Linked DNA regions of Homo sapiens. The protein of the gene in region 1 purifies or fractionates together with the protein of each later gene. This does not show direct contact. Each region holds a gene or a part of one and is shown on either strand. Other genes may lie near its edges. The genes, in order: BTBD1, TRAPPC9, RABGEF1, COPS7B, AMY2A, TRAPPC10 and AMY1C.

Region 1 (3,165 bases):
CTCACTCTGTTGCCTAGCCTGGGGTGCAGTGTTGGGGTCTCGGCTCACTGAAACCTCCACTTCCCAAGCTGAAGCAATTTTCGTGCCTCAGCCTCCTGAGTAGCTGGGATTACAGATGTGCGCGACCACACCTGGCTAATTTTTTTGTATTTTTAGTAGAGACAGGGTTTCATCATGTTGGCCAGGCTGATCTCCAACTCTTGGTCTCAAGCGATCTGCCCACCTCAGCCTCCCAAAGTGCTGGTGTGAGCCACTGCGCCCAGCCCTAATTTTTCATTTTTTTTGTAGAGATGGGATCGTGTTCTGTTGCCCAGGCTGGTCTGGAACTCCTGGGCTCAAGCAATCCTTCCACATCGGCCTCCCAAAGTACTGGGATTATAGATCTGAGCCACTGCGCCCAGACTGTTTCTATTATTTTACTCACAGTATTTATACTTCATAATTTTAATGTACCTATAATCCTGATGCCCTCCCACAGTTTGTACACAAGAAGCCTGGTGTCTTTTTTTTTTTTTTTTTGAGACGGAGTCTCACTCTGTAGCCCTGGCTGGAAGGCAGTGGCATGACCTTGGCTCACTGCAACATCTGCCTCCCAGGTCCCAGTTCAAGCAATTCTCCTATCTCAGCCTCCCGAGTAGCTGGGATTACAGGCATGCACCACCATGCCCAGCTAATTTTTTTGTATTTTTAGTAGAGACAGGGTTTCACCATGTTGGCCAGGCTGGTCTCAAACTCCTGACCTCGTGATCCACCTTCCTTGGCCTCCCAAAGTGCTAGGAGGCCGAGGCAGGAGAATTGTGTGAACCCGGGAGGCGGAGCTTGCAATGAGCCAAGATCGCGCCACTGCACTCCAGCCTGGGCAACAGAGCAAGACTCCATCTCAAAAAAAAAAAAAAAAAAAAAAAAAAAGAAGCAGGGGCCTAATGCCTGTAATCCCAATGCCTTGGGAGGCCAAGGCAGGAAGATCACTTGAGCCCTGGAGTTCAAGACCACCCTGGGCAACACAGCGAGACAAAAAAAAAAAGAAAGAAAAATTAGTTGGGCATGGTGGCACATACCTGTGGTCCTAGCTACTTGGGAGGCTGAGGTGGGAGGATTGCTTGAGCCTGGGTGATTAAGGCTGAAGTGAGCTGTGATCGCACCACTGCTCTTCAGCCTGGGCGACCAAGTGAGACCCTGTCTCAAAAAAAAGTAACCAAGAATAAAGCAGGGTCTGCTCAGCCCCTTGGAAGTCACAGGATGCTCACACCAGTTACAAGAAATTTAGTTTCAGTCCTAGAGTTGAAAGGGCCATGAAAAAGGCAGGAGGATGTTTTAAGACTGCACAGCAGGAAGTACTAATAGAAGGGATTCCTGGACAAAGAAGAGCTCCTTATATGCTACTGCTTTTGTGAAGGACCCCAATTTTCTGCAACCAGACTTTTTAGATCAACTCTAAAACAGAACTCTTTATGCTTACAATGCTACTAAGGGGCCTTCTGATTGCTTTGACAATTATATTGAAATTTGGATTCTGTCAAAACAATATCTTAAAGTTACCTGTTTGTGTTATTTCAAAATGATATATGGTGGGGGAGGAAACTGTACCTGTATATTCACTTGATAATCTGTAGGGCCATGAATAGATCCATACAAGCCAAATCCAACTATAGAGATCCTTCTATTAACTGTGAATCTGAGAGAAAGAAGCCAAAAATAAAATATAATTAATCCCATGTGTTCATATTCTGAAGGGTTATAATTTTTTTTAAGTGTAACCTGGAACATCCAGTTTTGCTTATAAAAAGGAAAACAAATTAGATATCCTTGGAAATGTCATCTGTTTGCTTACCAAAAAGCTTTCTAGAGCAGATTTGAACTTAAGAGGAACCTAAGAATTGGTTTTGTAAAAGAATTTAACCTAAATACCCACTTTTGTTGTAATGATAATTTTAGTGCTATACGAGTCCAAATATTTGTACATCTTTTTCATGAACGCAGACATCTCAGCCATTAGGACTGAAGCCCAGCATCTCAAACTACGACAATTATCAATTCAACAAATACTTACTAAGGGCTTATCATATTTAGGTACTAGGCTTGGCACTGCGGAAGTAATGGTCAACAAGACAGTTTCTACCTGCATTGTGCATACAGTCTAATGGAGGACACTGATAATGCAAGAAAGGAATAAATAAATAATTACAAATTGTAACAAGAGCTGTGAAGGAAGTAGGCTACTCTAACAGAATACTGGTAGCAGAGGGATGGGACAGGATTCGAATGCAGTTTCCTAACTAGAATAATTAACAAGTCCAGTTTGGTCATAATAGTTAAGAAATATTGACCCATCTTACTCCATTTTGTAAATGAATAAAAACTGACATTAAATACATATGGAACTGAGGCTGGGTGTGGTGGCTCACACTGCAATCCCAGCACTTTGGGAGGCTGAGCCAGGTGGATTACCTGAGGTCAGGAGTTTCAGACCAGCCTGGCCAACATGGCAAATCCCTGTCTTTACTAAAAATATAACAGTTAGCTGGGCATGATAGCAGGCACCTGTAATCCCAGCTACTAGAGAAACTGAGGCAGGAGAATCGTTTGAACCTGGGAGAAGGAAGCTGCAGGTGACCCGGCACTCCATCCTGGGTGACAGAGCGAGACTCCTTCTCAAATAATAATAATAATAATAATAATAATACATATGGAACTAAAAGCCTGTAAAATCTGACATAATTATAATGTCTTACATTGCAAAATTACATTGAGTAACTCTCAACATTGTCAGCAACACCTTCAATTATTAGTAATACTAACTCATCAATACCACTTCATGAGTACTTCCTAGTGTGCCAGGCACTGAACTTCAGTTCTTTACAGAATTATTTCCTTTAGTCATCGTAACAGCCCTATAAGCTAGATAACAGTACTATTTTGAACATCTGGTACAGTAAGATCACCTTAAACGCTTACAAACATGTAATTTTTTTTAAAGAGATGGAGTCTTGCTCTATTGCCGAGGCTGGGGTACAGTGGTACAATCATGGCTCACCACAGGCTTGAACTCCTGGGCTCAAGTGATCCTTCCACCTCAGCCTCCCAAGTAGCTGGGCTGCAGACACACTCCACCATTCCTTGCTAGTTTAATTTTTTTTTTTTTTTTTTTTACAGATGGAGTCTAAC
Region 2 (3,500 bases), on another chromosome or scaffold:
CCACTGATAAAGATTCAAGAATCCGAGCCCCAAGGCAAAGCACCAGTACTTTTTCCTATAATCGGATTACAGCAGGCACCCAACTCCAGGGCAGGGATCTAGTCATTCTGGAGCCACCAGCACCAACCACGATGTCTGCCACTCAGGGCAGGGGCTGAAACAGCATGTGACCATCAGACAGAAAGCAACACCTTAGCGCCAGCAAGGGGACTCCAGTACCTCTGCTGAAATCTTTGGGATCCAGCGACAGACTGTAGCCGGGCAGCGTTTCCAGGAGGAGTTTGTAGCAGGCCCTCCACCCAGGCTCCGCGATGCTTGGGGCCACGCACTGCATGGCGGCCACGCGCTTGAAGAACGCAGACTTGCGATGGAAGCCGATCAGCTCATAGAGCTCGGAGAGGATGCTGTAGCGCTGAATTTTCTCTTCCTCAGAAAGCTGAAGCACAGAGAGAAAGTAAAAAGCTTTTGAAAGAAACGTATAAGTGAAAAAAGAAGCACACATTAAAAATGTCTCTTCATAAAACAAAGACCTGAGGAGAATCGAGGAGAATCAAGGAGAGGGAAAGCCTGGTGAGCAGCGCATGGCGCAGGCCCCAGGTGGCTTCAGACCTTCCCCAGCCACAGCTGCAGGTGCAGCCCATCTTCCTGCTGATAAAGCCCAGATTCTCTGCTACAAAGGTACCTGCTACAAATCTGAGACCTCTACTTTAAGTTCCTTCACAAAAGAAAAGAAAAGGAACAAGAGTTCATCTACACAACAGGATTTTATCAAGGTCTCTCATCAAACACAAAAATTCTTAAAACACAAGAAGACACAGAATCATGTAACTGGGTAATGAATTATTAACAATACCACTGATATCAGACTTAAGACTTCAGGGTTTACAAAAGTTTTCTTTCATCCAAGACCCAACTGAATCCTCCCAACAACCCTGTAGTGTAGCAATCATAACTTCTGTTTCTTTTCTTTTTTTTTTGAGACGGAGTCTCACTCTGTCACTCAGGCTGGAGTGCAGTGGTACGATCTTGGCTCACTGCAACCTCCACCTCCCGGGTTCAAGAGATTCTCCTGCCTCATCCTCCAGTGTAGCTGAGATTACAAGCACCCACCCCCATGCTGGCTAATTTTTGTACTTTCAGTAGAGACGGGATTTCACCATGTTAACCAGGCTGGTCTCGAACTCCTGACCTCAGGTGATCTGCCTGCCTCAGTCTCCCAAAGTGCTGGGATTACAGGTGTGAGCCACCACGCCCAGCCAACAACTTCTGTTTCTTCAGCACCTACTGTATGGCAGCAGACTTAACGTACCTGATTTACTCAATACAAGCATCCTGTGAGCTGGCAAATAAGGACATTAACAGCTCAGGGACACATTAATCACCTGTGCAAAATCACACAGCCAAGAAGTATCAGGGACAAGACCTGACTCTGGGCCTGGGCCCTGCCCACTGCACAGCGCCTTCAGAGAAGAAGGAAGGCAGAGCCCACTCTGCTGCTCCAGGAGCACTGTTAAGGAAGCGCTTCTCTCCCTCCTCTGCCCTGGACGATGAATGTTTCCCTGATGTTTCTGTGAGTACAGAGCCTTAGCTTGAACGCCCTTCCAACTTGGGCCTCCAAACCCTCCCTCCATCCCCTCTCCTCCGCGCTCACTGCCATGGCCTCGATGGGGCCCTCGTCAGCCCTCATCTGGAAGAGGAATCGGCATTGTCTTCCTACCACCTCTCGACCTTCCTTCACCTGTCCACACACCCCTGCCAGACTTAGGTTCCTGAGACATGGCTCAGAGCCCATCACCCGAGCCACGGTTTGAATGTTTGTGCCTCCCCAAAATTCACATGTTGAAAGCCTAGCCCCCAAGGTGATGGAATTAGGAGGTGGGGACTTTAAAAAGTGATTGGGTCAGGGGGTGAAGCACTCACAAATGGAATTAGTGCCCTTATAAGAAGAGACCCTAAAGAGCTAGCTCACCTGTTGCACCATGTGAGAACACAGAGAAAAGACGGCGGTCTATGAACAAGCAAGTGGGCCCTCCCCAGACACCAAACATGCTGGCACCTGGATCATGGACTTCTAGCCTCTAGAACTGTGCACAATACATTTCTATTGTTTATCAGCCACCCAGTCTGTGGCATTTTGTGACAGCAGCCTCACCGGACTAAGACAATCCCCATCTTGAAACCACTAGACCCCTTCAGGACTGTAAAATGGAGCCCAAATGCCTTCACGGGCATGCCAGGCCCTCCTCAGCCCCAACCTGCTCTGGAAATTCGAGGCCCCACTGCCTACCTATGACCTCACCAGACTGAACAACTTTAACTCATTTGTTTTCTCATTCTGTCAACACATATTTACTGAACCCCTACTCTGGTGCCAGCCACTCTTGTGGCAGAGGATACAGCAGTGAGCAAAACAAGCTAAGACTCCTACCCCTGGGGGCCTCCATGCTAATGACAGGCTAGTCCCCTGGCTTAGAATCAGTGGGGAGGATGACAATAAATCAATGAAAAAATAAACAAAATAGCTGCTCTAAGTCCAATGAAATACTCTTTGACATAGAATCATGGGTGGAAGCGTATGAGGCAGGCTGTACTAGGTGACGCCGCCGGGGCACACAGGCTCTCTGCTCCTGCAATGCCTCCACAGCCACATCTGGCTCTCCCTTTGGACACTCGGTTCCAATGCCACCCTCTCCAAGAAGCTGGTCCTCATGCCCTTCAGCGGGAAGCTGCTGCTTCTTTCCCTAAATTCTCCTAACCATGCTGGACTCCATAATGTCCTTTCTCTGTGTCTCCCACACAATTTACCTACATATCGGATCTCTGCCAGCCCCACTTTTCCTACAGTGAAAGGTCATGCCGACGCCGACGATGTGTGAGAATCCCTGTTGCTCCACCTGCTCACCAGCATATGAGGATATCACCTGCTCACCAGCATATGAGGATATCACCTGCTCACCAGCATATGAGGATATCAGTCTTTTTTATTTTAGACGTTGTGGTGGCTTTAACTTCCATTTCCCTGAAAACTAATGATGTTGAACCTTTTTCATATGATCACTGGCCACTGGTATATCTTCCTTTGTGAAGCGCTTGTTCAAATCTTCTGACAGTTTTTAAAATTAGATCGTTTGTTTTATTACTGAGTCGTACGAGTTCTGTATATATTCTGAATGCAAGTCCTTAGTTATATGTGTTTTGCAAATATTTCCTCCCGGTCTGTTGCCGATTTATTTCCCTAAGGGAGTGTTCATAAGCAAAAGCATTTCTCTGTGATGTAGCTCAATCTATCAGCTTTTTCTTCTATGGTTAGTGCCTTCTATGTCCTCATCTGAGAAAAATCTTTGCCCGAGGTCACAAAGATATCCTATGTTTTCATCTAGAAGTTGTTGTCTAGGTCTATGGTCCGTGAATATTCAAATTTGAGTAGGACATGGCCTGTCCCTTTCCAGGAGTGTGCAGTACAGCAGCGAACAGAAGCCCCAGTGCTGGAGGACAGCAGC
Region 3 (3,500 bases), on another chromosome or scaffold:
TTAATACAATAACTCACCAAAATGGTGATTCCAAGATGGAAAATTCATTTAGCAAAGCCTTCCAATAAGTTTTTCTCTTTCTCTCTCTCTTTTTTGAAGACAGAGTCTCGATCTGTTGCCCAGGCTGGAGTGCAGTGGCACAGTCTCAGCTCACTGCAACCTCCGCCTTCCGGGTTCAAGCAATTCTTGTGCCTCGGCCTCCCGAGTAGCTGGGATAAGAGGTGCACCACAACACCCGGCTACTTTTTGTATTTTTAATAGAGGCGGGGTTTCACCATGTTGGCCAGGCTGGTCTCGAACTCCTGGCCTAACGTGATCCGCCTGCTTTAGCCTCCCAAAGTGCTGGGATTACAGGCATGAGCTACTGAGCCAGGCCCTAAGATGTTTTCGTCAGCTCCAGCCCTGCCCCAATGGAGTTATTAAATGTTACTCAATAAATTATCCAATTGCTCCTGGAAAGATACGCATGGTACAGTTCAAAGGCACTGCTAAGTATAAGACCAGTTCCCAGAATGTCCATGAGGTTACAGGATGAAGTCTACAAACCAGCCAGACCATCAGAGAAAGAAAGAAATTGCTAAGAGACTGAGCAGTCATCCCTGTGCAATACCCGCAATCTCTCAATGGCTAACAGTGTTACCTTTCCCACGAGTTTGCATCCTTTCGGCCACATTGTGGTAGAAATCCTGAGCACACTCTGACTGTTCTTCAATGCTTAGATCCTGAAACAGAGAGACAAAGAGGCTGCTTGTAGCTGAACAAAGTGCAGAAGCACAGCTCTACATTCTAAGAACTTTCCAAAAGCCATTCCTTGTACTGGTAGTAAGCCTAAAAGTACTCACAGGTTATATTAATCCTGCAGGAGAGTAAAACCTATCCATTAATATTATTTCCAATATCCATTGTTGCCGGACTTTTCCTTAGTTCAGCTAAAGACGGGATCCTTGTCCGTCTCACAGCCACAAAAATTTAGGCTCGCAGGCGGTTTGAATGGTGGGTAAGACAGGGTTTTATTAGGTGAAAAGGAAGAAAAGGGGGAATCCGAGACACTCACAAGGCCAGAGTCCCTGCTAGAGTGCTTCCTGCCAGCAGCTAGAATCCTGGGCTCCACACAGAAAGAAGAGGGGCCAGGCTCCTCCCTGCTACAAATGGTGCAAACTTCCCAAAACTCCACCCCGGTGGGCAGGCTGGCTGGAGTTTTTCCGGGGACCCCTTCCCACCTAGCGGTCTCACCATGACCATCTCATTCTTTTTGCTAAATCTACGTATTCTTAAATAGATTTAATGCATGTTTTGATAATTTACATATTTTATGTACATTTCTATTTATCTAATCCACTGAATCATTTCTGGTGGCTTTATAACACTGCATTATATTAACTGACTTCTTCGACTCTCCTCTACCACTGTGCATTTGAGTTGCTCCCCCTCTTTCACTGTTGTGCACTGTAGGTATAAATAATTTTGTAAGGACTATCTTCTTTTCGGTTCTCTGTCATACATTTCCAAAAGTGGCATTAACCGCTTAATATGAATAAACAATGTTATAGCACTAAGTATCTATTGCTAGCCACACTCCTCAGAAACTCAGTGCACACTGTCATTAACCACGTGTATGCACTTACTTCCCTATGGCCCTTACAACATTGGGCTTGATAATTTTTATTTGGTTTTACTGATTTTATAGGTGTAATATATGTATTTGTTTCTCACTTTCTGCCAAAGAATATTTAAAGGCTATTTAAAAGATAAATGCAGTTCAGCACAAGAGACTAGAAAATAAAAAGAATAACAAATAACTGTAATCCCAGTGCTCTGGGAGGTTGAGGCTAGAGGATCGATTGAGCCTAGGAGTTTGAGGCCAGCCTGGGCAACATAGTGAGACCCCATCTCAAGAAAGAAAAGAAAAGAGAAGAGGAAAGAAAGAAAGGGGAGAGAAAGGAGAGAAAGGAAAGAAAGAGAAAGAAAGAAATTAAAAAATTTTTTTAACAATAATAAGTAAAAAAAAAAAAAAAAAAAAAAAAATTAAACATGGAGAGAGACCTAAAGCAGAGCCACAGATGACAAGACAGAAATGTTTTCCTGGAAGATGTCTAAATTAGTCAAGAGTCAGCCCATACATCTGTCTCTAACTAAATTTTTTAGCAACCATCACTAGGATGAAAACAGTTATGTAATTCAGGGTTCAAAAGATGAAAGCAAACAAATTATTCGGGTGAAATTCTGACACCAAAATCAAAAATTTCTCCCAACGGTTCTCATAAGGATGTCACAGTAGAAGAACATGAATAAGGCCGAGAACAAACCCCCAGGACGGGCTGTCACAGACTTCATCTACACAGGCCACTGACCTCACACGCCAAGGGCCGATACATCCTGTGGAAGCCCACAGCAGTCTGACCATCTGGCTTAACTCTAAAAGGATGGCAGGACACTTGGGGTCAGGAGCAGTCACCTCATTCCCTCAGTAAAAATGGCCAAGCACTCATGGCACTTTGTGATCACCTTGACTGCAGCCCTTGTTACTGTCAACTAGTTACCCATATACATGCACACACTGCAGTGCTCAAATCTATCCTTCTACTTCAAGTATTTTATGCAAAAGCTTATCCATTCAATCTTTTTAGGTAGTTTACACATGGTTTTACACCTTTCATTTGCACCAAATTTTAGCACTTAACTTAGAAGAAACTATATTCATTCTTGTGATTATTACTACAGATTTGAGCATTCCTAACCCAAAAATAAAAAATCTGAAATGCTCAAAAATCCCAAATTTGTCAGTGTCGACATGACACCACAAGTGGGAAATTCCACACCTGGCCTCATGTGATGATGGGCTAGAGTCAAAAAGCAGCCAAAACTGTTACATGCACAAAACTGCTTAAAATGTGGTATAAAATTACCTTCAGGCTATGTATGTAAGGCATATATTCAACAAATGAATTCTGTGTTTGGACTTGGGTCCCAGTCCCAAGTTATCTTATATATGTGTAAATATTCCAAAATCTGGGAAAACCCCAAAATCTGAAACACTTCTGGTCCCAAGGCTCTCGGATAAGGGATACTCAACCTGTAGTGCTCGCTTCCAACTAGAAACTCTCTGAGCTCCTTTTAGAGACCCGAGAGGCCTGTCTTACTGGTGTCAAGGGATCATATTCTCCTCCCCCAGCCCAGCACAACCCCTGTAATTTTACAATACAATGCCGAAAACTCCTTTTCTATTTCTACTGCAGTTTATGCTCCAGTACAGTATTGCTTTCATAATGTAAAAGAACTCACCCCTGCCACTGTCTCTCATCCTGCTTTCCATTCTTGTAGGACTTAACACTATGTTACAGATCTGCTTATTGTCCATTTCCCCAACTAAAATGTTAGCTCCACAAGGGCACTGTTCACCACCATATCCTCATGCCTAGAACAAGGCCAGGCACAGGGTTAGTGCTCAGTATGGGTTGAATGAATAAATGTGGCCATTTATTACCATTCCTCCCTTTATA
Region 4 (3,154 bases), on another chromosome or scaffold:
GTCAAATAAGTAATAGCTTTTTTAGTCTTTTTTTTTTTTTTTTTTGGAGACAGAGTCTTACTCTGTTGTACAGGATGGAGTATAGTGGCACAATCACAGCTCACTGCAGCCTCAACTGCCCAGGCTTAAGTGATCCTCCCACCTCAGCCTCCTGAGCAGCTTGGACCACAGGCGCTTGCCACCATGCCTGGCTAATTTTTAAAAACTTATTTGTAGAGACAAGGTTTCACCACGTTGTCCAGGCTGTTTTCAAACTCCCAGGGTCAACTGACCCTCCTACCTTGGCCTCCCAAAGTGCTGGGATTACAGGCATGAGCCACCACACCCAGCCAGTTTTCTACATAGTGAAAAGGAGTTGTCAGGGTCAAAAGTTCTCAACAGTCAGAATATTATGAGCTTGAGGGTAAGAGACAGTCCAAATGCAAAGACAAAACAATGCTATGAGGGTGAGACAAAAATTGGGTTCCTGGAGGAGAGCCATCATCTGCAGAATCCACCTTAACTAGATCATAAATTGTTTTTTGTTGTCACTATTTTGAGACAGGGGGAAAAGCCATGCCCTAAACTTCTGTAACCTCAATCAACGCTGTAGCCTTTCTGAAGAGAGAATGACAGAGGACTGTGGGCTGGAACAGTCATTACAGAGGGCAGGCTGGGCATGGTGGCTCACACCTATACTTCTAGCACTTTGGGAGGCTGAGCAAAGAGAATTGCTCAAGAGCAGGTGTTCAAGACCAGCCTGGGCAACATAGTGGGACCCTGTCTTTCTTAAAAAAAAAAAAAAAAATTTTAGCCAGGTATGGTGGCATGCACCTGTAGTCCCAGCTACTCAAGTGGCTGAGGCAGGAGGATCGCTTAAGCCCAAGAGGTAGAGGCTACAGTGAGCCATGTCTGCACCACTGCACTCCAGCCTAGATGACATTCAAGTAAGACCTTATCTCAACAAAAAGACATAAAAGAAAAAAACATGTGCCTGGTGTGGTGGCACATGCCTATAGTCCTAGCTATTCAGGAGGCTGAGGCAGGAGGATCACTTAAGTCCAGGAGTTTGAGGCTGCAGTGAACTATGATTACACCACTGATTCCAGCCTGGGTGACACAGCAAGACCCAGTGCCTGGAAATATATAAATATATATATATATATATATATAAAATTTAAAAAAAAATATATATATATATATATAATAAACAGGGAGGGGAATTCAACTCTGGGTTTATCCAGTGTCCTGCCAGACAACAAAACACAATCTGGGAACCCCAGAACCCTGAGGCATCTCGCCCTCCCAGCGGCTCACTGCCACTTTGGTGTACCTCATTCAGTGAGTCACCTGGCAAGGTGGTGAGTGAATGATCTGGAGCAAGCCAATGGCTTATCACTCTTTCTCTGATAAAAGAAATATTATTTGTTTTAAGACTTTTTTTAAAAAATAGAAATGGGATCTTGCTATGTTGCCCAGGCTGGTCTCAAACTTCTGGCATGAACCAATTTGCCTGCCTCAGCCTCCTAAGTAGCTGGGACTACAGACACATACTATCATGCCCAGCTAAGGCATATTTTGATGACATTGGAGGAAAAATTAAGAAATTTGACTTCTCAGGGAACACTGCTTTATAAAATAACATTCTAAGGCTTCTCCAATTTGATATATTTTCTAAATATCCAGAAGAAAATGAACTAAAATCATAATAAGAGGTAACGACATGACTTTAGTTTATTTATTTGCATGTCAGTTACCTCTAACTTCCAAAGAAGATCCTGCAATTTAACATTACCTGAGGGAATGTGTTTTAAAGTCTCCCCAAAAGCTGACAAAATTTTAATCAAATAAGACATTAGAAAACAAACAAGTTTTTGTTTCAAGGACTGTATTTCCAAAATGGGGTATCTTTCCAAGCAAATAATTACCTTTCCCATTTGGCAAAATAGCTTTATTAAAAATTAAAAAAACAAAACCAAAAAAAATTCCTAATTTCATCTTGTCTGATAAGCACTATTTAGCCTTATTTCCTCAAGTTATTTGTGTAATAATTTTTACTAAACAATCAGCTTAGGCCAGGCACAGTGGCTCACGCCTGTAATCCCAGCACTTTGGGAGGCTGAGGCAGGCAGATCACGAGGTCAGGAGATCGAGACCATCCTGGCTAACGCGGTGAAACCCCATCTCTACTAAAAATATAAAAAGTTAGCCGGGTGACGTGGCGGGCACCTGTAGTCCCAGCTACTCGGGACGCTGAGGCAGGAGAATGGCGTGAACCCGGGAGGCAGAGCTTGCAGTGAGCCAAGATCGCGCCACTGCACTCCTGCCTGGGCTACAGAGCCAGACTCTGTCTCAAAAAAAAAAAAAAAAATCAGCTTATACTACAAATAGTTTTCTACATTATTTAACATGTCTTAGATTTACTGACAGTCTCATAACCCCTGCATGAGTAAGGAAAAGGCATTAATCAATCCCCAAATAATGGTTATATTTTCAATCCGCTTCACCTATGTTTTTGTAGCATAAAGTCATTATCAGCCTATCAGAAAGTGACAACCGGCATTTATTTCTCTCTTTAGAGTGGCCCAAGGTGATTTGGGCCGGCTTTGGACTCAGAGTATCTATGGCTGGGCTGAGTGATGAGTCCCTGACCTGCCAGCCAAGGAGCAAACTCTGCCTGTGGCACATCCACCAACGGCAACGCTCCGCTGCCAGCCTCTCAGCAACTGACCAGTTCAACTGACTCCCAAGGCTTTGCTGTTTTACTCTTTTTCTTTTCAAAGCTCAACACTTCCAATGCTTCTCCTTCACAGAGCCACAAACTCATGGTTCTCACTCTGGTCCTGAGGGAGCCCGCGCATCATCCTTCTGCAGTCACAGAAGGGCTGACCCTCTGCTTCATTTCTGTACTGCCACTCCCTACCATAACGCAGCCTCCCTCTCTCATGGTGACTCAATTCTATTTAAAAGCCTTTGAGATTCAAGATCCTGTCAAAAGCTTTTGAACAAATAAGTAGACAGAAGCATGGACACTTTCCCCTGTTATTCAGATGCCTATTTACTTCCTCAAGCCATTTTCTCCTGTAGAAACTGCTCTCATTCAGCTTTTTTAGGGGCTCAGTAACCCTGACATGCAATAAAAAGAAATAAGACTTGGCCCAGGGAAAAACTTGGT
Region 5 (3,954 bases), on another chromosome or scaffold:
GCTACTGTCTCAAAATCTGAGCTCCCGGAGTGCACAATTTCTGTCCTTTTTAAGGGCTCACAACACTAAAGATTTCACATGAAAGGGTCGTGATTGATTTGAGCAAGCAAGGGATACGTGACAAGGACTACATTCACTGCTGGTCAGGGAGAAACAGAACAGGGCAGGGAGTTTCACAGAGTTCTTTTATACAATGTCTGGAATCTGTGAATAATATCAGCTTCTAAATCATAAGTTGATTTTTAGCTACTGGGTTTAGGCCAATCAGGCCCAGGCCTGGTTTCAGGCCTGGCGCTGGGCTGCATGTCTTTGGTTGTACTTCCTGGTTGTTTTTACTGAATAGAAAACAATATAAAACAAGGAGAGGGTCTTTGTCTCCTCTCAATATCAGCACTGGATTGTAGAATGTGTTGCTGATTTTGACCTTGTATTCAAGTTAACTGTTGCCCTTGGTATCTGTACATATCTTTGATTTCAGTCTTTACTACACGTGGCTTGGTCACTTCATGGCTAAAAACATGCTTGTGGAAGACCAGTCTGGCTCGGTGAGTCTGTGCGGCCAGCAGTCTCTGATCTGTACAGGGTATTAATGTGTCAGGGCTGAGTGTTCTGGGATTTGTCTAGAGGCTGGTAAGGGCTTCTGGACCACTTGTTTCTGTCCTGTCAGTCTGTCAGGGTTGGAAAGTCCAAGCCATAGGACCCAGTTTCCTTTCTTAGCTTACGTTATCTACCAGAGCACCGTGGGCTGTTACTTACCTTGAGTTGGAAGGGGTTCGCATTTATACCTGTAAAAGTATTCATCCTTTTAATTTATGTAAAGTTTTTTTGTATGCCATTCTGGATCTTTAAAGAGATGACAACAAATTTTGGTTTTCTACTGTTATGTGAGAACATTAGGCCCCAGCAACAGGTCACTGTTTAAGGAAAAATAAAAGTGCTGCCAGAACCTAAGAAAAACATTAATATCTAAAAGGTCATTTAGATGATTTCCATGAGAGACTTTTTGATGTTCTTTACCTGTTAGGATTATTATTGATAATCCTTTTCAGATTATGAATAAACAGTTTGCCCTCAAGTATTTATTCATGCTAATATTTACTTTGTAAAATGTGCTTCTTACAGGAATATAAATAGTTTCTGGAAAGGACACTGACAACTTCAAAGCAAAATGAAGTTCTTTCTGTTGCTTTTCACCATTGGGTTCTGCTGGGCTCAGTATTCCCCAAATACACAACAAGGACGGACATCTATTGTTCATCTGTTTGAATGGCGATGGGTTGATATTGCTCTTGAATGTGAGCGATATTTAGCTCCGAAGGGATTTGGAGGGGTTCAGGTGGGTATGATTCATAGTATCAATTGCGGAATTCACTGTGCTTGTAGGAAATAGTATTCTGATCTTATCTGTGAAGCTTGGGCAACATTTTACTTCACAGGTAAGTATTCTAAGTAAAAGAGATTTCTGAGGGAAAATCTATGTAGTATTCTTGGCAACTTTATATTTTGTTTCTGAGATAATCTTTCTTCACCAAGAGCCCTCCAATGTGCTGTTAATATTTTCAAGAGATAGCTGCCTATACCAAGATTCAAGAATCTTTTATACTATTGATTAGTTTCTAGAACATTCAATGATACACAGTAAGACAGAATTTGGTACTTATGAAGACTGTTTAATTTGTAGGTCTCTCCACCAAATGAAAATGTTGCAATTTACAACCCTTTCAGACCTTGGTGGGAAAGATACCAACCAGTTAGCTATAAATTATGCACAAGATCTGGAAATGAAGATGAATTTAGAAACATGGTGACTAGATGTAACAATGTTGGGGTAAGTGAATTCTAGTTTCCTTTAAAAATAACAGACAGGAAAATGGTTTCTCTCTCTTCTTTCTTGCTCCTTTTCAGCAGAAAATTTTCCGTATTTTATTTTTTTAATTTTACTTCATAATTTAAAACTCAAAATTAACTGTTTATTTATGTTCAACTTTTGTGAATATTTGTGTGTGTGCTATCTACTAAAGAGGTAAGTTAAAGTTTAAATCAGAATTTGCTTCTAAAGCAAAACATCAAATTTTAACCCTTATAACTGTTCGTATTTCCCGGAAACAATTTACTGGTTAGGAAGTATAATTCCAGTTACAATGTTTGCTATCATTTTTAGGTGACTTGTGTCTCCATCCGTAATTCTTGGGTTTTTCATGGTGAATAGCTAGCTTCTCTATTTAATGAGGAGCATAAATTGAGATTAATAGCTACCTTGTTTGTCTTCAAAAGCTTCATAGAGAGTACAGGCTTTCTCCTGGTGACCCACTGAAATTTCCAAAACAATAACCTTTCCACTCTCATCTGAGTTTTGTCTTCCCAAAGTGGGCTTTTTGCATTTCCTCCTATTTATGGTAGTTTCTGGTCTCTCAATTTATCATTCCTATAAATATTTGACCAAGTGTCTAGAAGGCATGTAGGTGTTTAGTTCACATTACTTTCCTTTCACAGTTGATTTTTGATCTTGTAGGAAAATAATTATAAGATATCATGAAATATTTTGGAGTTTTATTAACATACTATAAACTTGCATCAATAATGCTTTAAATTTCTACCTCTCTGTAAGTCACACTGAAGTAGAAACTTTGTTTTCTAGGTTCGTATTTATGTGGATGCTGTAATTAATCATATGTGTGGTAACGCTGTGAGTGCAGGAACAAGCAGTACCTGTGGAAGTTACTTCAACCCTGGAAGTAGGGACTTTCCAGCAGTCCCATATTCTGGATGGGATTTCAATGATGGTAAATGTAAAACTGGAAGTGGAGATATCGAGAACTACAATGATGCTACTCAGGTAATTTTTTTACGAGAGTGATCTGAATAAAAGAGTAATATATGCCTTTTCTTGTAGACATGTAGCTAATTGAATTTCATTTAAAATAGGAATTTAGATCTCTTAGGGACAGAAGTTAACAAGTTTGACTACTTTAAGAAACTCAAATCCATATTTAAGAACTTTCAAATATTGATTTAAGATTTTTAATCAATACACATTTGCCCACTTCTAAGAAGTTCCCAATTAAAAATCTCATCGACTTTATTTCCTAAATTCTCTATTTTCTATTAGAAAATATTTCAAAGATACATCTGTAGTAGAATGTGAGCATCCCCAGTGCCCAATGCAAGGAAGTCACTATAGAATATCTCTTGAGGAATCATGGAATAAATGAATAATCCAATGGATTCTCAGGAGAAAAATGAGGTTTTATGAATCAATCATAACATTTTTACCTCAACAGGTCAGAGATTGTCGTCTGACTGGTCTTCTTGATCTTGCACTGGAGAAGGATTACGTGCGTTCTAAGATTGCCGAATATATGAACCATCTCATTGACATTGGTGTTGCAGGGTTCAGACTTGATGCTTCCAAGCACATGTGGCCTGGAGACATAAAGGCAATTTTGGACAAACTGCATAATCTAAACAGTAACTGGTTCCCTGCAGGAAGTAAACCTTTCATTTACCAGGAGGTACATCAATACTTATATGCCTATAAAATATCATCTTATTCGTTAGAAAATTAATGGAAGATTTAATTAAAAATGCAATTTCTGTAGGATAAGGAATGAGACATTTACATAAAACAGTGTTCTTTAACCTCCTCTTCTTCACATACAGCATATCTAATTCTTTATCACAACATGTTTTATGGAGGTACACAGAATGTAGGATACTGATAATAGTTATGTCTTTACTTTCTTTGGATAATGAAACAAGTTAATATTTATCAAGGAATTTCAGTCGATACTAAATGTTTTATTAGTGTGAGCTCTTATTATTATCATTGATGTAGAAGACTAAAAATTAGGTAAGTATTTTCACAGGACAACAGGTATCTTTGACATTATGCTTCTTTCAATATTGTAGCCTATACTTTATCAAATAAAAGAATATAAGAATATTACCTGTTGA
Region 6 (3,500 bases), on another chromosome or scaffold:
GCGTATTTCTGGTGTGTTTCATAAAATCAGACTATCAAAGAGAAGAAACCCCAGTGGGTCATGTGGTTACCATTTCAGAGTACTCAAAGGAGATACAAGCTATAAGGAAAAAGATGCTTGTTTTCATTTTCTAAAAAAAAAAAAAAAAAAAGTGATTGAAATGAGATCTTGAAATCTGTACTCAAGTGATTTCATTAGGTGAAGCAAGAAATGAGAATTGATTTGAACTGATGTGAATTGGCTGGAAAGGGATTCTTAGATCAGCTAAGTGAACTTTCTGGTTTTCCGGATGTGGTTGGAGCAGCTTTGCCGATTACCCACTGGTTAACAGCAGAGTCACAGCTAGAATGTAGCTCTCTTGAACTTCCATGCTGTGTATCTGAAGAGGAAGGTGCTCCTTAAGGAAGCAGAGAGGCTTCTCGGGAAAGGGGAGGGGATCCTTGTTGCTCCTGAGGCTTTGACAAGCCCTTATTAATTTGCATTTTAAAGGCAGGCAAGGCCGCACACACCAGTAGTCCCAGCTACAGTGGAGGAGGCTGAGGCGGGAGGATCACTTGAGCTGAGGAGTTTGAGACTGCAGTGAGCTATGATCACACCACTGTATTCCAGCCTGAGTGACAGAGCAAGACCCCATCTTTAAAAAAAACAGTTGTGCTTTAAACTTTGCTTTGGGGGCCAAGTGTGGCTATTTTAATTCTCCGGCGTTCTCTGGAAGCTGGATCCTGTGGAGTGCTCTTTGCCTGAGTTTCCAAGTGGCTCTGTGCTCCCTTCCGCTTGCGCCCTGTAGACTGCTTCTGTGTTTCTGTGCCTTTAGTAGGTAGTGTAGACCCATACTTGGACTTCCTGGCTTCATTGCTGACTAGCAGTGTACTTGTGGACAAGCCCTTCCTTCACCTTCTCTTAGCCTTGGCCCTCTTGCCTGTCAGCTTGAGATCATGAATGATAGGCTCACTTTCTTATCCTGAGATTCAGCTATGAAAGTTCCTCGACATGTGTATAAAGCCAGACCAACGATGTGTTGTGCTCTTATCACCACACGCTCATTTCTCAGATCTTTGCCTGGGAGTCTAATTATGTCGTCCTGAGTAGGTACTCTTTCTCACGGAGTGGGGTGGGTGGAAAAGGGCTATCTAGAGATGTTGAGTCTGTCCTGGCATGGGGTCTGGAGGATGGAGGCCAAAGCGGGAGAGATGGGGTTTCAGTGTGTTGATTATCCCTAGCTGTAATGAAAGCTACTGTTTGTTGACTTTGCAAGGAGGAAAAAGGCTCCACAAAAGGCAGAAATCTATCTTCAAGGAGCACTGAAAAACTACCTGGCTGAGGGCTGGGCACTCCCCATCACACACACAAGGAAGCAGCTGGCCGAATGTCAAAAGCACCTTGGACAAATTGAAAAGTATCCTTTAATGTTTTCATGAAGCAGGAAAATTATTTTCTGTTTATACGGCAACATTGCCCACAATCAATGTTTCATTCACACCTATTATTAAGGAGAGAAAAGTCCTAACTTATACATATGTATTGTATAGAAAATGAATGAAATGTCTAGTCGATTTTTTATAATCTAATTTTGAGCCCTAGTAACTTAAAAAAAAAAAGCCCTTTGGCTTTTGAAGCCTCTGTGAAGGCCGTAGGAGACTTTGCATCCACTTCCCCCCGCACTCCTAAGTATGAGCCTCTCCACGCTCCTTACCTCTCCGCTCCAGCTACCTGCAGACCAGCAGCCTCTTAGCCAGTGACCACCACCTCACTGAAGAGGAGCGCAAGCACTTCTGCCAGGAGATACTTGACTTTGCCAGCCAGCCGTCAGACAGCCCAGGTAAGACCAGTTCTTACAACTTGACTAGGAATATTTTCAAATATTACAGAAGTAAAAAAGAATACAAGATATACCAACCACTTACAGTAAACAGTTGCTAACATTTTGCTGTGTAGCTGACATGTATCTATGTCTTTCACCTGACTTTTTTTTTTATTTTTGCTTTAAGTCAAACTCTAGACCACATTAGATCTTCTAAAAATAAGGACAGTCTCTTAACCACACCCAAAGAATTAATAAGGTTCTAATATCATCTGCTAAGTAGGCCATATTCATATTTCCCTAATTGTCTTAAAGTATTTTATAAATCATTTTTAATGGAGTCCAACAGGATATCACATATTACATGTGGTTGTTAGATCTCAGTTCTCTTTTAATGTAAAAAAAGTTCTTCCCATCTCTTTTTCTTCTTCTTCTTTTTTTTTTTTGAGACAGAGTCTCGCTCTGTTGTCCAGGCTGTAGTGCAATGGTGCCATCTCAGCTCACCACAACCTCCGTCTCCCGGGTTCAAGCAATTCTCCTGCCTCAGCCTCCCAAGTAGCTGGGGTTACGTGCGCCCGCCACCATGCCCTGCTAATTTTTTGTATTTTTAGTAGAGACAGTGTTTTGCTCTGTTGGCCAGGCTGGTCTCAGACTCCTGACCTCAGGTGATCCACCCACCTCAGCCTCCCAAAGGGCTGGGATTACAGATGTGAGCCACCGCACCCAGTCTTTTTCTTCATTTTTTAAGATGGTGCTTTTTTTTTTTTTTAAAATGTAACAGCATTATTGTGATATTCACAAACCATGTAATTCACTCATTTGAAGTTTATAATTCAATGGCTTTTAGTCTGTTTCAGGAATATGTGCAACCATTACCACAGTCAATATTATTGTTCTTTTTTTTTTTCTTTTTTTTTTTTTTTTTTTTGACTATCTTGCTCTCTTGCCTGGGCTGGAGTGCAGTGGCACGATCCCAGCTCACTGTAGCCTCAACCTTCTGGAGTCAAGAGATCCTCTTACTTTGGCTTCCTGAGTGGCAGGGACCACAGGTGTGGGCCACCACACCCAGCTATTTTTTTTCTTCTCTGTCTCCCAGGTTGGAGTGCAGTGGCATGATTGTAGCCCACTGCAACCTCTGCTTTTTGGGCTCAATTGCTCCTCCCACCTCCACCTCCTGTGTAGCTTGGACTACAGGAGCATACCACCATGCCTGGCTAATTTTTGTATTTTTAGTAGAGATGGTTTTGCCATATTGCCCAGGCTGGTCTTTAACTCCTGAGCTCAAGGAATCTACACACCTCGGTCTCCCAAAGTGCTGGAATTACAGATGTGAGCCACCATGCCTGGCCACCACAGTCAATTTTAAAACATATTTATCACCCTAAAAAGAAACCCCATACTGTAATCCCCAAAGTGCTGGGATTACAGGCGTGAGCCACCACGCTGGGCCCCAGATGCTTGTAAGTGAATACACCCCAGCAGTCAATAACCACATCAACCTGACCCTGAAACTTCTAGGAACTTCTGCCTGCCCTGGGAGGCCGGGGCAGGCAGATCACTTGAGGTCAGGAGTTTGAGACCAGCCTGGGCAACATGGCGAAACCCTGTCTCTACAAAAAATTAGCCAGGTGTGGTGGCGGGCACCTGTAGTCCCAGCTACCCAGGAGGCTGAGGTAGGAGGATCGCTTGAGCCCAGGAG
Region 7 (4,054 bases), on another chromosome or scaffold:
ATTCTGAACCCTGCAACACCAATGTCAATGAGATGGTTCATATATTCGGCAATCTTAGAACGCACATAATCCTTCCCCAGTGCAAGATCGAGAAGACCAGACAGACGACAATCTCTGACCTGTTGAGGTAAGAATGTTATGATTGATTAATAAAACCTCACTTTTCGCCTGAGAATCCATTTGATTATTCATTTATTCCATGATTCCTCAAGAGATATTCTATGGTGACTTCCTTGCATTGGACACTGGGGATGCTCACATTCTACTATAGATGTATCTTGGAAATATTTTCTAATAGAAAATAGAGAACTTAGGAAATAAAGTCGATGAGTTTTTCAATTGGTTGGGAGCTTTTTAAAAGTGGACAAATGTGTATTGATTAAAAATCTTAAATCAATATTTAAAGGTTTTCAAATATGGATTTGAGTTTCTTAAAGTAGTCAAACTTGTTAACCTCTGTCCCTAAGAGATCTAAATTCATATTTACAACGAAGTTCAATTAGCTACATGTCTACAACAAAAGGCATATATCACTCCTTATTCAGATCACTCTCGTAAAAAAATTACCTGAGTAGCATCATTATAGTTCTCGATATCTCCACTTCCAGTTTTACATTTACCATCATTAAAATCCCATCCAGAATATGGGACTGCTGGAAAGTCCCTACTTCCAGGGTTGAAGTAACTTCCACAGGTACTGCTTGTTCCTGCACTCACAGCATTACCACACATATGATTAATTACAGCATCCACATAAATACGAACCTAGAAAACAAAGTTTCTAATTCAGTGTGACTTACAGAGAGGCAGAAATTTAAAGAATTATTGATTAAATTTATAGTGTGCTAATAAAATTCCAAAATATTTCATACCTTATAACTATTTTCCTACAAGATCAAAAATCAACTGTGAAAGGAAAGTAATGTGAACTAAACACCTACATTCATTCCAGACACTTGGCCAAATATATATAGGAATGATAAACTGAGAGAACCGGAAACTACCATAAATAGGAGGAAAGGCAAAAAGCCCATTTTGGGGAGACACAACTCAGATGAGACTGAAAAGGTTACTATTTGGGAAATTTCAGTGGGTCACCAGGAGAAAGCCTGTACTCTCTACTAAGCTTGGAAGACAAATAAGGTAGCTATTCATCTCAAATTCTGCTCCTCATTAAATAGATAAGCTACCTATTCACCACAAAAAAAACCCAAGAATTAGGAATGGAGACACAAGTCATCTAAAAATGAGAGCAAATATTGTAACTGGAATTAAAATTCCTCACCAGAAAATCCTTCCAGGAAATATGGATAGTTATAGCGGTTAAAATTTGATGTTTTGCTTCAGAAGTAAACTCTGCTATAAACTTTAACTTATCTCTTTAGTAGAGAGCACATATACAAATATTTTCAAAAATTGAACATAAGGTGACAGTTACTTTTGAGTTTTAAAGTATGAAGTAAAATTAAAACTGATATGGAAAACTTTCTGCTCAAAAGGAGCAAGAAAGAAGAGACAGAAATCATTTTCCTATCTGTTATTTTTAAAGGAAACTAGAATTCACTTACCCCAACATTGTTGCATCTAGTCACCATGTTTCTAAATTCATCTTCATTTCCAGATCTTGTGCATAATTTATAGCTAACTGGTTGGTATCTTTCCCACCAAGGTCTGAAAGGGTTGTGAATGGCAACATTTTCATTTGGTGGAGAGACCTACAAATTAAACAGTCTTCATAAGTACCAAATTCTGTCTTACTGTATATCATTGAATGTTCTAGAATCTAATCAATAATACAAAAGATTCTTGAATCTTGGTATAGGCAGCTATCTCTTGAAAATATTAACAGCACATCGGAGGGCTCTTGTTGAAGAAAGATTATATCAGAAACAAAATATACAGTTGCAAAGAATACTACATTGTTTTTTCCTCAGAAAATTCTTTTACTTAGAATACTTACCTGTGAAGTAAAATGTTGCCCAAGCTTCACGTAGAAGATCAGAATAGTGTTTACTACAAGCACAGTGAATTCTGCAATTGATACTATGAATCATACCCACCTGAACCCCTCCAAATCCCTTGGGAGCTAAATATCGCTCACATTCAAGAGCAATATCAACCCATCGCCATTCAAACAGATGAACAATAGATGTTCGTCCTTGTTGTGTATTTGAGGAATACTGAGCCCAGCAGAACCCAATGGTGAAAAGCAACCAAAAGAGCTTCATTTTGCTTTGAAGTTGTCAGTGTCCTTTCCAGAAACTATTTATATTCCTGTAAGAAGCACATTTTACAATGTAAATAGTAGCATGAATAAATACTTGAGGGCAAACTGTTTATTCATAATCTGAAAAGGATTATCAATAATAATCCTAACTGGTGAAGAACATCAAAAAGTCTCTCATGGAAATCATCTCAATGACCTCTTAGACATTAATGTTTCTTTTCTTTTCTTTTTTTTTTTTTTTTTGCATATGGTAGCACTTTTATTTTTCCTTACACAATGACATGTTGCTGTGGCCTAATGTTCTCACATAACAGCAGAAAACCAAAATTTGTTGTCAACTCTTAAAAGATCGAGAATTGCATACTAAAAAACTTTACATAAATTAAAAGGATGAATACATTTACCGGTATAAATGCGAACCGCTTCCAACTCAAGGCAAGTAACAGCCCACGGTGCTCTGGTAGATAACGTAAGCTAAGAAAGGAAACTGGGTCCTATGGCTTGGACTTTCCAACCCTGACAGACCGACAAGACGGAAACAACTGGTTCAGGAGCCCTTCCCAGCCTCTAGATAAATCTCAGAACACTCAGCCCTGACACATTAATACCCTGCACGGATCAGAGACTGCTGACCACACAGACTCACCAAGCCAGACTTGTCTTCCACAAGCACGTTTTTAGCCATGAAGTGACCAAGCCACGTGTACTAAACACTGACATCAAAGGTATGTACAGATACCAAGGGGAAGAGTTAACTTGAATGCCAGGCCAAAATCAGCAACAAGTTCTACAATCCAGTGCTGATATTGAGAAGAGAGAAAGACCCTGTCCTCTTGTTTTATATTGTTTTCTATTCAGTAAAAACAACAAGGAAGCAAAATCAAAGGCACAAAACCAGGCCTGGGCCTGGTTGGCCTAAACCCAGTAGTTACAAATCAACTTATGATTTAGAAGCCGATGTTATTCATAGATTCCAGACATTGTATAGAAGAACATTGTGAAACTCCCTTCCATATTCTGTTTCTCCCTGACCACGGGTGCATGTAGTCCTTGTCGCATATCCCTGGCTTGTTCAAATCAATCACGACCCTTTCATGTGACATCTTTAGTGCTGTGTGCCCTTAAAAGGGACAGAAATTGTGCACTTGGGGAGCTCGGATTTTGAGACAGTAGCTATCCGATGCTCCCAGGTGAATAACACCCTTCCTTCTACAACTCGGTGTCTGAGAGTTTTGTCTGCCGCTTGTCCTGCTACATTTCTTGGTTCCCTGACCTGGAAGCAAGATAACTGATGGACGGCCGAGGCAGCTCCTTAGGCAGATTAGGCATGCCTTGTGGAGTAAGGCCGGGGCATCCCTCAGGCTGCCAGGGACTCTGGCCAGCCTGAGGGATGGGATCCAAAGAGCGCTCCCAGGTAGGAAATGGCCCCGGTTGAACGCCTCGCCAGAGCAGTGATCCCCGCGGAGGATTAACACAGTGGCTGAACACCAGGAAGGAACTGGCACTTGGAGTCCAGACATCTGAAACTTAGTAAGACAAGTCTTTTCAACTTGCCCCACTCCACCTGAGCGGAAGCTTGGCCTGATCGCTCATGGTGTGCCTGCACCCATATCAATTTCCATATAGAGATTCCTAGTTACAGCTAGTTTTAGATCCTCTACAGTGGTAAAAGGACAGGCAGCAGCAGTAGTAGTAGCAAAGGGACATTTATTTCAGGAAAGTTCTCGCTCCACCGGCCAAGAGAAGCCAGCACCTAAAGTTCTGTTTGACCCAGAGCTCGAGGACTCAAGGCAGGAGATGGCACCAACAGTGCCCTCAACCCCTTAT

The links.
Region 2: the proteins of BTBD1 (region 1) and TRAPPC9 purify together in Homo sapiens (affinity purification with mass spectrometry; 2 studies listed by BioGRID and IntAct, with this or other methods). This does not show direct contact.
Region 3: the proteins of BTBD1 (region 1) and RABGEF1 purify together in Homo sapiens (co-immunoprecipitation; one large-scale study listed by IntAct). This does not show direct contact.
Region 4: the proteins of BTBD1 (region 1) and COPS7B purify together in Homo sapiens (affinity purification with mass spectrometry; 2 studies listed by BioGRID and IntAct, with this or other methods). This does not show direct contact.
Region 5: the proteins of BTBD1 (region 1) and AMY2A purify together in Homo sapiens (affinity purification with mass spectrometry; one large-scale study listed by BioGRID and IntAct). This does not show direct contact.
Region 6: the proteins of BTBD1 (region 1) and TRAPPC10 purify together in Homo sapiens (affinity purification with mass spectrometry; 2 studies listed by BioGRID and IntAct, with this or other methods). This does not show direct contact.
Region 7: the proteins of BTBD1 (region 1) and AMY1C purify together in Homo sapiens (affinity purification with mass spectrometry, with the first as the bait; one large-scale study listed by BioGRID). This does not show direct contact.

Annotation. Positions count from the first base shown.
Region 1 is NC_000015.10:83,019,088-83,022,252, forward strand, and holds part of BTBD1 (BTB/POZ domain-containing protein 1), read right to left. Parts: intron 1,676-3,165; coding exon 1,588-1,675; intron 1-1,587.
Region 2 is NC_000008.11:140,370,745-140,374,244, forward strand, and holds part of TRAPPC9 (trafficking protein particle complex subunit 9), read right to left. Parts: intron 437-3,500; coding exon 220-436; intron 1-219. UniProt on the Homo sapiens protein: Functions as an activator of NF-kappa-B through increased phosphorylation of the IKK complex. May function in neuronal cells differentiation. May play a role in vesicular transport from endoplasmic reticulum to Golgi.
Region 3 is NC_000007.14:66,792,733-66,796,232, reverse strand, and holds part of RABGEF1 (rab5 GDP/GTP exchange factor), read right to left. Parts: intron 723-3,500; coding exon 641-722; intron 1-640. UniProt on the Homo sapiens protein: Rab effector protein acting as linker between gamma-adaptin, RAB4A or RAB5A. Involved in endocytic membrane fusion and membrane trafficking of recycling endosomes. Stimulates nucleotide exchange on RAB5A. Can act as a ubiquitin ligase.
Region 4 is NC_000002.12:231,803,445-231,806,598, reverse strand, and holds part of COPS7B (COP9 signalosome complex subunit 7b), read right to left. Parts: intron 1-3,154. UniProt on the Homo sapiens protein: Component of the COP9 signalosome complex (CSN), a complex involved in various cellular and developmental processes.
Region 5 is NC_000001.11:103,616,273-103,620,226, forward strand, and holds the start of AMY2A (pancreatic alpha-amylase precursor), read left to right. Parts: upstream 1-1,154; 5' UTR 1,155-1,168; coding exon 1,169-1,336; intron 1,337-1,681; coding exon 1,682-1,828; intron 1,829-2,638; coding exon 2,639-2,836; intron 2,837-3,281; coding exon 3,282-3,512; intron 3,513-3,954.
Region 6 is NC_000021.9:44,078,309-44,081,808, forward strand, and holds part of TRAPPC10 (trafficking protein particle complex subunit 10), read left to right. Parts: intron 1-1,255; coding exon 1,256-1,396; intron 1,397-1,706; coding exon 1,707-1,819; intron 1,820-3,500. UniProt on the Homo sapiens protein: Specific subunit of the TRAPP (transport protein particle) II complex, a highly conserved vesicle tethering complex that functions in late Golgi trafficking as a membrane tether.
Region 7 is NC_000001.11:103,748,644-103,752,697, reverse strand, and holds the start of AMY1C (alpha-amylase 1C precursor), read right to left. Parts: upstream 2,801-4,054; 5' UTR 2,632-2,800; intron 2,275-2,631; 5' UTR 2,229-2,274; coding exon 2,061-2,228; intron 1,716-2,060; coding exon 1,569-1,715; intron 766-1,568; coding exon 568-765; intron 120-567; coding exon 1-119. UniProt on the Homo sapiens protein: Calcium-binding enzyme that initiates starch digestion in the oral cavity.